2 linked regions of the Homo sapiens genome follow. The protein of the gene in region 2 purifies or fractionates together with the protein of the main gene of each other region. This does not show direct contact. Each region holds a gene or a part of one and is shown on either strand. Other genes may lie near its edges.

Evidence for each region. The genes of interacting proteins can lie anywhere in the genome.
Region 1: the proteins of FGL1 (region 2) and TSR3 purify together in Homo sapiens (affinity purification with mass spectrometry; 4 studies listed by BioGRID and IntAct, with this or other methods). This does not show direct contact.

What each region holds. Positions count from the first base shown.
Region 1 is NC_000016.10:1,350,141-1,353,886, forward strand, and holds the start of TSR3 (18S rRNA aminocarboxypropyltransferase), read right to left. Parts: upstream 1,739-3,746; 5' UTR 1,665-1,738; coding exon 1,553-1,664; intron 1,459-1,552; coding exon 1,239-1,458; intron 861-1,238; coding exon 667-860; intron 95-666; coding exon 1-94. Other genes in the region: GNPTG (N-acetylglucosamine-1-phosphotransferase subunit gamma precursor), read left to right, coding at 1,826-1,877, 1,962-2,019, 2,099-2,166. UniProt on the Homo sapiens protein: Aminocarboxypropyltransferase that catalyzes the aminocarboxypropyl transfer on pseudouridine at position 1248 (Psi1248) in 18S rRNA.
Region 2 is NC_000008.11:17,888,870-17,892,615, forward strand, and holds part of FGL1 (fibrinogen-like protein 1 precursor), read right to left. Parts: intron 2,939-3,746; exon of another isoform or gene 2,812-2,938; intron 1-2,811. UniProt on the Homo sapiens protein: Immune suppressive molecule that inhibits antigen-specific T-cell activation by acting as a major ligand of LAG3. Responsible for LAG3 T-cell inhibitory function. Binds LAG3 independently from MHC class II (MHC-II).

The sequences.
Region 1 (3,746 bases), on a different chromosome or scaffold from region 2:
GCCGCGTACTTGTCCAGGAGCTGGCGGTTCAGGTCCAAGAAGCCCTTGCCCCATTTAAACTTCCGCAGCAAAATGACAGCAAGGTCTGGAAAGCCTGACGGTGTGAGAAACAGGAAACCCAAAGAAGTCGACGGTCCCCTCAAGTGCCTCCTGATCACCCTGCTGCCGGATGGCGGCGCTCTCCCAAGTAACCGCAGGGTCCCCAGCAAACATCAGCTCACAGTCCTGAGAACCCGTGCTGCCCCCAGCCTGCACCTCCCTTGCTACAGTCCACACCTCTGCAACCGACCAAGTCCCCCTCCTTTGCTGCGAAACAAACATTCCCACCAAGACTGCCCCACGCCTCATCAGGGCCTCTTTAGATCAGCAATTCAGTAAGGAGGACGTGGAGGATAAGGAGGATTCTCTGGGCAGTGGTGCCCTGATAATGAATGGCACCCCACACACCGGCCCTGATAGAACAGCGATCCCATTCTGCCTCTACTGCAACTCCACAGGCCGAAAACCTGAAGTGACAGTTGGGGCTGGAACCGTGGTCTGTCTGAACTGTTCCCCTGTCCGTCCCTTATGCTCCTCCTGGGGTCTGTCGGCAGGAAACATGATGCTGGGAGCATAGCAGGAACAGCAGGCCGCCGGGTCACACTGCTGTGGGGCCCCTGGACTCACCTACGATGCAGAAGGTGGCAGCAAACGCTTCCACGCAGGAAAGTCTGTAGGGCCGGCCATAGTTCACGGGGTTGGCGGCCACCAGGTAGGGCAACAGGCGCAAGTGGCTCCCTCGCATCTTCCCAAACGGTGTCTCGTCCAGCCTGGCCCAGGAGCAGTCGATGACGGCGACCCCAGACTGCGCCACCAGCTGTCTGCCAGGGACAGCATGGGATAAGTTCAGGAGCCAGCACTACCCAAGGTGGAGCATGCCCCGGAGAATGGCCTAGCTAAGGGATTCAGGGACATCATTCCGCCATCCCCAAACACCCTCAAACGGACTTCACGAGCAAGCTTTTGAGGCAGCTGCTTGGGGCACCTGGAGCATGTGTTTATTCACTCAACAAACGTTTATTACCCCAAAACCTCCTTTATCCCAGGCTCTGCGCTACGCAACGGAGGCAAACTAGACAGACGTTCCCTGCCCACGTGGGTGTGGATGTGGGTGCGACATACAAGTGCCACTAAACCATCCCTGAAGGGAACCACGCGCTGGAAATGAAGACGACCTCGGGCAGGCCTCCCGCGCCTACCTGTCTGCGGGGGACGCGTACTGCTTGCCCACGGGGCTCAGCACCAGACCGCCGAATCTGTGGCCCAGGCGCAGGCAGCGCACCAGCCCCAGGCGGGCCAGCTTGCGGCCCGTGCAGCGCCGGGGGTCGCAGTGGCCCAACTCCCACATGGCCAGCGTGCAGGGCAGCGCCGCCGGGCCCGGGCCGCCCTCGCCGTCAGCCGCCCCTGGCTCCACGGAAGCTGCACGAGAGAGAGAAGGGCACTCGGCCTCAGCGTGGGACCCCCGGGCAGGCCCTCAAACCCTGACCCGCTCTCCCCATCACGCCTCGCTCACCCTGCAGCGCGGCGCCGACCTCCTCGGCGAAGGCCTCCAGGGAGCGCGTCGGGAGGTGCCGAGGGCGGCCGCCTTCCGCCCCCGGCCCGCGCGCTGCCCTCCTGCGGCCCATGGCGCGGACCTGGGGTGCCGGGGACTCCCCACCCCACGGCCGCGCCCCTCGGCCTCCCAATGGGCTGTGCGGCTGCCAGCGCTTGCGCCGGACGCCACTTCCGGTCCCCGTGGTCACGTGACCGTCACTTCACGTGACCGCGCGGCGGCCGCTGCGGCGCGATGGCGGCGGGGCTGGCGCGGCTCCTGTTGCTCCTCGGGCTCTCGGCCGGCGGTGAGTGGCCCGGCCGTCCGCGTCCCCAGGCCCCGCGCGCGCTCTGCACCCCGGCCTCCCCGCTCACGGTCTCGCTCCCCGTAGGGCCCGCGCCGGCAGGTGCAGCGAAGATGAAGGTGGTGGAGGAGCCCAACGCGTTTGGGTGAGCAGCCTCGCGGGCTGGCGGCTCGAGCGGGGGACGGCCCGGGCCCGTTCCCCGCTGACCTTGCCGCTTCCCGTAGGGTGAACAACCCGTTCTTGCCTCAGGCCAGTCGCCTCCAGGCCAAGAGGGATCCTTCACCCGTGTCTGGTGAGTGAGGAGCGCTGTTGGCCGGCGCGGGGGTGGCCGCGGGGAGCAGCAACAGTGGAGGATGGATGAGTGACCCTGAGAGTTACGGCCCGGAGTCTAAAGCATTGGTTTGTCAGCCTTCTAAAATTAATGTGGAAGTACGAGAGAATATACCAGAACGTTCTTGTAGCGAATTAAATTATCTCCAGACTTAGTCCTTCCTTTCCTTTCCGAGAGGTAACTGCTGTTAATAGTCTGGTGACTTTGCAGACGCGTTTCTGTGCTTTTACGTGCGTGTCTATGCAACTGGAAAACGTATAGTTTTTGTAATCTAATCGCTTTTTTAAAAAATCATGCTGCGCGAGTATTTGGCTGATTTGTCGTTGTCACTCGCTGTATCTCTCGGGACGCTTCATGGTGATGATATAGGTCTTCGTTCTTTCTCTTGGTGCTCAGCACGCGATAGGATGGCACTGCACTCCCCGATTGTATTTAGGTTCTTGCCATTTTTTTGGCCATTAGAAATAGTTCTGTGGAGAACATGCTGTGTAGGTGCTTTGGTTTGCCCTCAGGTGAGCGGTTTCCCAGTGCAGGATTCCAGAAGTGGAATTGGTGGGTCATGAGTATATATATCATTTAAACGCTGAATGAGTATTAAATATAATAGACAAAAATCCAAGAATTTTTTTTTTTTTTTTTTTGAGACAAGAGTCTCGCTCTGTCGCCCAGGCTGGAGTGCAGTGGCACGATCTCGGCTCACTGCAACCTCCGCCTCCCAGGTTCAAGCGATCCTCATGCCTCAGCCTCCCGAGTAGCTGGGATCACAGGCATGCATCACCATCACGCCCAGCAAATTTTTGTATTTTTAGTAGAGATAGGGTTTATTTCACCGTATTGACCAGGCGGGTCTCGAACTCCTGACCTCAAGTGATCCGCCCATCTCGGCCTCCAAAAGTGCTGGGATTATAGGCGTGAGCCACCGCGCCCAGCTTTAGTAATTTTATTATCGAATACCTTTATGTGTTAGGGTCTGTGCTGGGGTTGCAGAAACGAACACAGATATACCAATGCTTGTCCTCATGGAGCTGACAGTCTAATGGGGAGGGATGGAGGAACAGGCACTGAGCCTGTAGAATTAGATAAAATACATAGAATGGCCAATGATGAAAAATGCCATGTAGATGTGTGAAGCAGAGGAGGGAGTGTGTGTATGTGTGTTAGAGTATTGTTTGGGGGATCGCTTTTTTTATTTTTTAGAGACGGGGTCTTGCTCTCTCACTCGGGCTGGAGTGCAGTAGTGCAATCATAGCTCACTGCATCCTTGAACTCCTGGGCTGAAGCAATCCACCAACCTCAGCTTCCTGAGTAGCTGGGACTACAGGTGCACGCCACCATGCCCGGCAAATGTTAAGTGTTCTTGTAGAGATGGAAGTCTCACTATGTTGCCCAGGCTGGCCCCAAACTCCCAGCGTCAAGCAATCCTCCTGTCTTGGTGGGGATTGCTTTAAATAGGGTGCTGAGGAAAAGTCTAAGAAGTGACATTTCAGCCAAAAGCTAAAGGAGAAAAGGGAGTAAAGCTGTGGCTATTTGGGGAAAGGGAT
Region 2 (3,746 bases):
TAAAGTTTTAAAAATTGAATGGATTCTAGTCCTCTAATCCCTGTCACTAGAAAATGACTGACCTACAGCATGCTTTAGTATCTTTTCTTCACAATAAGAGAATAATATTTTAATAATGACACACAATAATTGCTAAACAGGCTTGATGGGACAGTAAGCGTAGTTCCACAAAGATGCCAAGCAGCCTGCGTGGCCTGGGGCATTATATAAAAATGAGCTAGCCATTCAAGTAGAATGTACCTCTGCAAGGCTGCAATATTACTTACATTAAAGGGCCCATCATCAAGGGGACAAGGGCTATTTCCCCAAGTCTAACGTGGATTGGAAAAATAAGGAATACTCATCTGAAACCATATTGTGTTTGTGTTTGGGCATCACTAAACACTCTGCCGAACTTTGGCTGGGCGTGGTGGCTTACGCCTGTAATCTCAGCACTTTGGGAGGACGAAGTGGGAGGATCGCCAGAGGCCAGGAGTTCAAGACCAGCCTGGCCAACATGATAAAACTCCATCGCTACTAAAAATACAAAAATTAGCCAGGTGTGGTGGTGCACACCTGTAATCCCAGCTACTCGGGAGGCTGAAGCATGAGAATCACTTGAACCTGGGAGGCGGAGGTTGCAGTGAGCTGAGATTGTCTCACTGTAGTTAAGCCTGGGTGACAGAGCGACACTCCACCTCAAACAACAACAACACTATCAAAACACTATCAAATTTTAATTGGCCATTTTATTTTATTTCATTAGCCTCACAGTGAAAATAAGAAAACAAGCACAAGGATGCTTATGATTTCTCCAGGACCATTCAGCCTCTGGGGATATCCCCTGGGAATATCTCCCAAATCTCCTGAACCTCTTTCTTTATTGCCTGGTTAATCCTTTCTTACTGTATTATGTTGAACTATAAGAAATGGCAGATGTTTGAACATTTCTGACTTAGAAAAATGGCAATTTCATTGTTTCAAATTAATGCATATTGTTTAGATAGGAAGAACACACTTGAAAATCATTATAACCATTTATACTACAATGAATACCAAAAAAATAGGTTCAAAATATACTGTTTGCAGCTTACTTGATCAGAGAGAGAACAAATTGGCAAGAACCTGTTTTTATATCAATGCTGCCTCCCATGTTAATACATTAATGTGTGCCATTTAAAATATGTTTACAAAATTGCTAATACATCATCAACACATGAAATCTCACGATGTCTTTAGAAGACACATTATGTTTACTTTTTACTAAAGGAAGCTCAAATAGTGAAGCAAAGTAACTTTCCTAAGGAAAGACTCTACGTTCAAAATTTATACAACATCCAATCATTTCTCACCACCTCTATTGCTAATGTCTGGCCCAAGCTACCAATGGAAGATTCCAAACAATTTTTTAGAATTACAATGAGACAACATTCTATACTGAGCCTTTCCTGGGCAAACCGGGATATTTGGTCATTCACCGACAAAGCTTTACATAATCTGTGAGCATCCACCTCCTCAACACATCTCTTTTCCCATCATTTTTGCCTGTTCTGGCTACATTGGCCTCTTTGGCATTTTTGGAAAACCCTGAAATACACAGACTTCTCAGGGCGATTGCACTTGCTGTTCTCTCTACCTGGAATGCTCTTCTGAAAATCTCTGTGGTTTGCTCCATGACATCCTTCAGGTCTTTGCTCAGGTATTCCCTTCCCAGAGATACCTTCCCTGACTACCACATATAAAATAACAGCTGTCCCCTACTGTCTTAGTCCATTCTCATTTTATAAATTTACCCAGTAAAGATCTGCCTGAGACTGGGTAATTTATAAAGGAAAAAGGTTTAATTGACTCACAGTTTGCCATGACTGGGGAGGCCCCAGGAAACTTACAGTCGTGGTGGAAGGGGAAGCAAACATGTCCTTCTTCACATGATGGCAGGAAGGGGAAGAGCCAAGCAAAAGCCCCTTATAAAACCATCAGATCTCAGGAGAACTCACTATCACGAAAACAGCAGCATGGGGGTAGCTGCCCCCATGATTCAATTACCTTCCACTGGGTCCATCCCATAACATGTGGGATTACGAGAACTACAATTCAAGATGAGATTTGGGTGGAGACACACGCAAACAACATCACCCACACACTTCATATCTCTATCACAATGGATTCAGTTTCTCCTTAGCACTTATCACCAAATATAATGAAATATTATAATATATGTGTTTATTGTCTACCTACTCCAACCGCCCTGTACAATGTAAGCACGAAGAGGTGAGTGGCTACATCTATTATGTATACTGCCCTAATGCTAGGTGGATAGTTAGGTACTGTACTAGTTTCTTGAGGCCACCATAACAAATTACCATAAACTGAGTGGCCTAAAACAACAGGAGTTTATTATCTCACAGTTCTGGAGGATACAAGTCCAAAATCAAGAAGAACAGGGCCATACTTCCTTCAAAGGCTCTAAGAGAAAATCCTTTCTGGACTCTTCTAGCATTTGGTGGTTGCCAGCAATTCTTGACATCCTTTGACTTGTGGCAGTATCACTCTATTCTCTGATACCATCTTCACATAGCTGTCTTTCCTCTGTGTGTCTCTGTGTCTAATTTCCCTCTTCATATAAGGACATCGGTCATTGGATTAGGGTCTGCCCTAATCCAGTATGACCTCATCTTAACTCAGTTACATGTACAAAGACCCTATTTGCAAATGAGATCACATTCACAGGTAATAAAAGTTAGGAATGTACATGTTTTGGGGGCACAGCTGAACCTAGCACAGGTACTCGACAAAATATCTACTGAATAGATGAGAAGAAAACTTGTAAACCTGAATTAGAATTGTAGAACTTCCCAGGATCTGTTATTGTAATTTCACAGTTGCTTATGGGAGATCAAATTCTTTTGTGTCTGTTGAATTTATAAGATGTCTTTATCAGATTCCCTCCATCTTCACCCTTCCAGCAACAACAAAAATAACTACTCTTAATGAATTATGCTTTTCATAAACTTTTTTGTGATTTGCAAATATGTCATGTCAATATGTAACAGCTTATTTTGGTTTTAAAAGAGACATTTGGATTTATAAAATCCCAAAAGAAAATATATACCTGAAAACATAATACCTAAGATATTTGAAAGTTGGCTCTCTCACTGGGCCAAGGTCATTACCATAGCTATCTCATAATAAGTTTTTAGTTTGACTCGTGTTTTCAGTTGGCAATAAATATGTTTTTTGAGCAAAATTATAATAGCTATGTTGCTTTTTAAATTTGTACCCTTGTGTCTTTAACTATCTAATTTTAAAATTTATCACAAAACTCAAGTAGCATAAAGGAAAAAAATAAATGCCCTTATGCAAATGGCAATTTCTTAAACATAAACAATTGCATAGTCACAGACATACAGTCATAAAGTATTTTTCATGTTACAGAAAATAAGAAACAAAAACATTTTATTATAAGGAAGCAAAAGAAAATAAAGATGGAAAACAAAATATTTAAAAAATATAAAGAGATTTTAGAAATAGCCTTGTTCCCCGAGACTAGAACATGCAGAGAAAATATAATTAGAGGAAGTGACATCATTCAGTCAAATATCATCAACACTAGAGGCTCAGAGAGGGAAAATTGTTTGCCTAAAGAAATAAAAGAGACTTTCACTAAGTATATTTACACTAGTCTGGGAAATCAGCATAACGACATGACATAAATACCATTTATTTGTGACTCCAACTCAAATTGTTCTTCTGACTGAAAATAACCA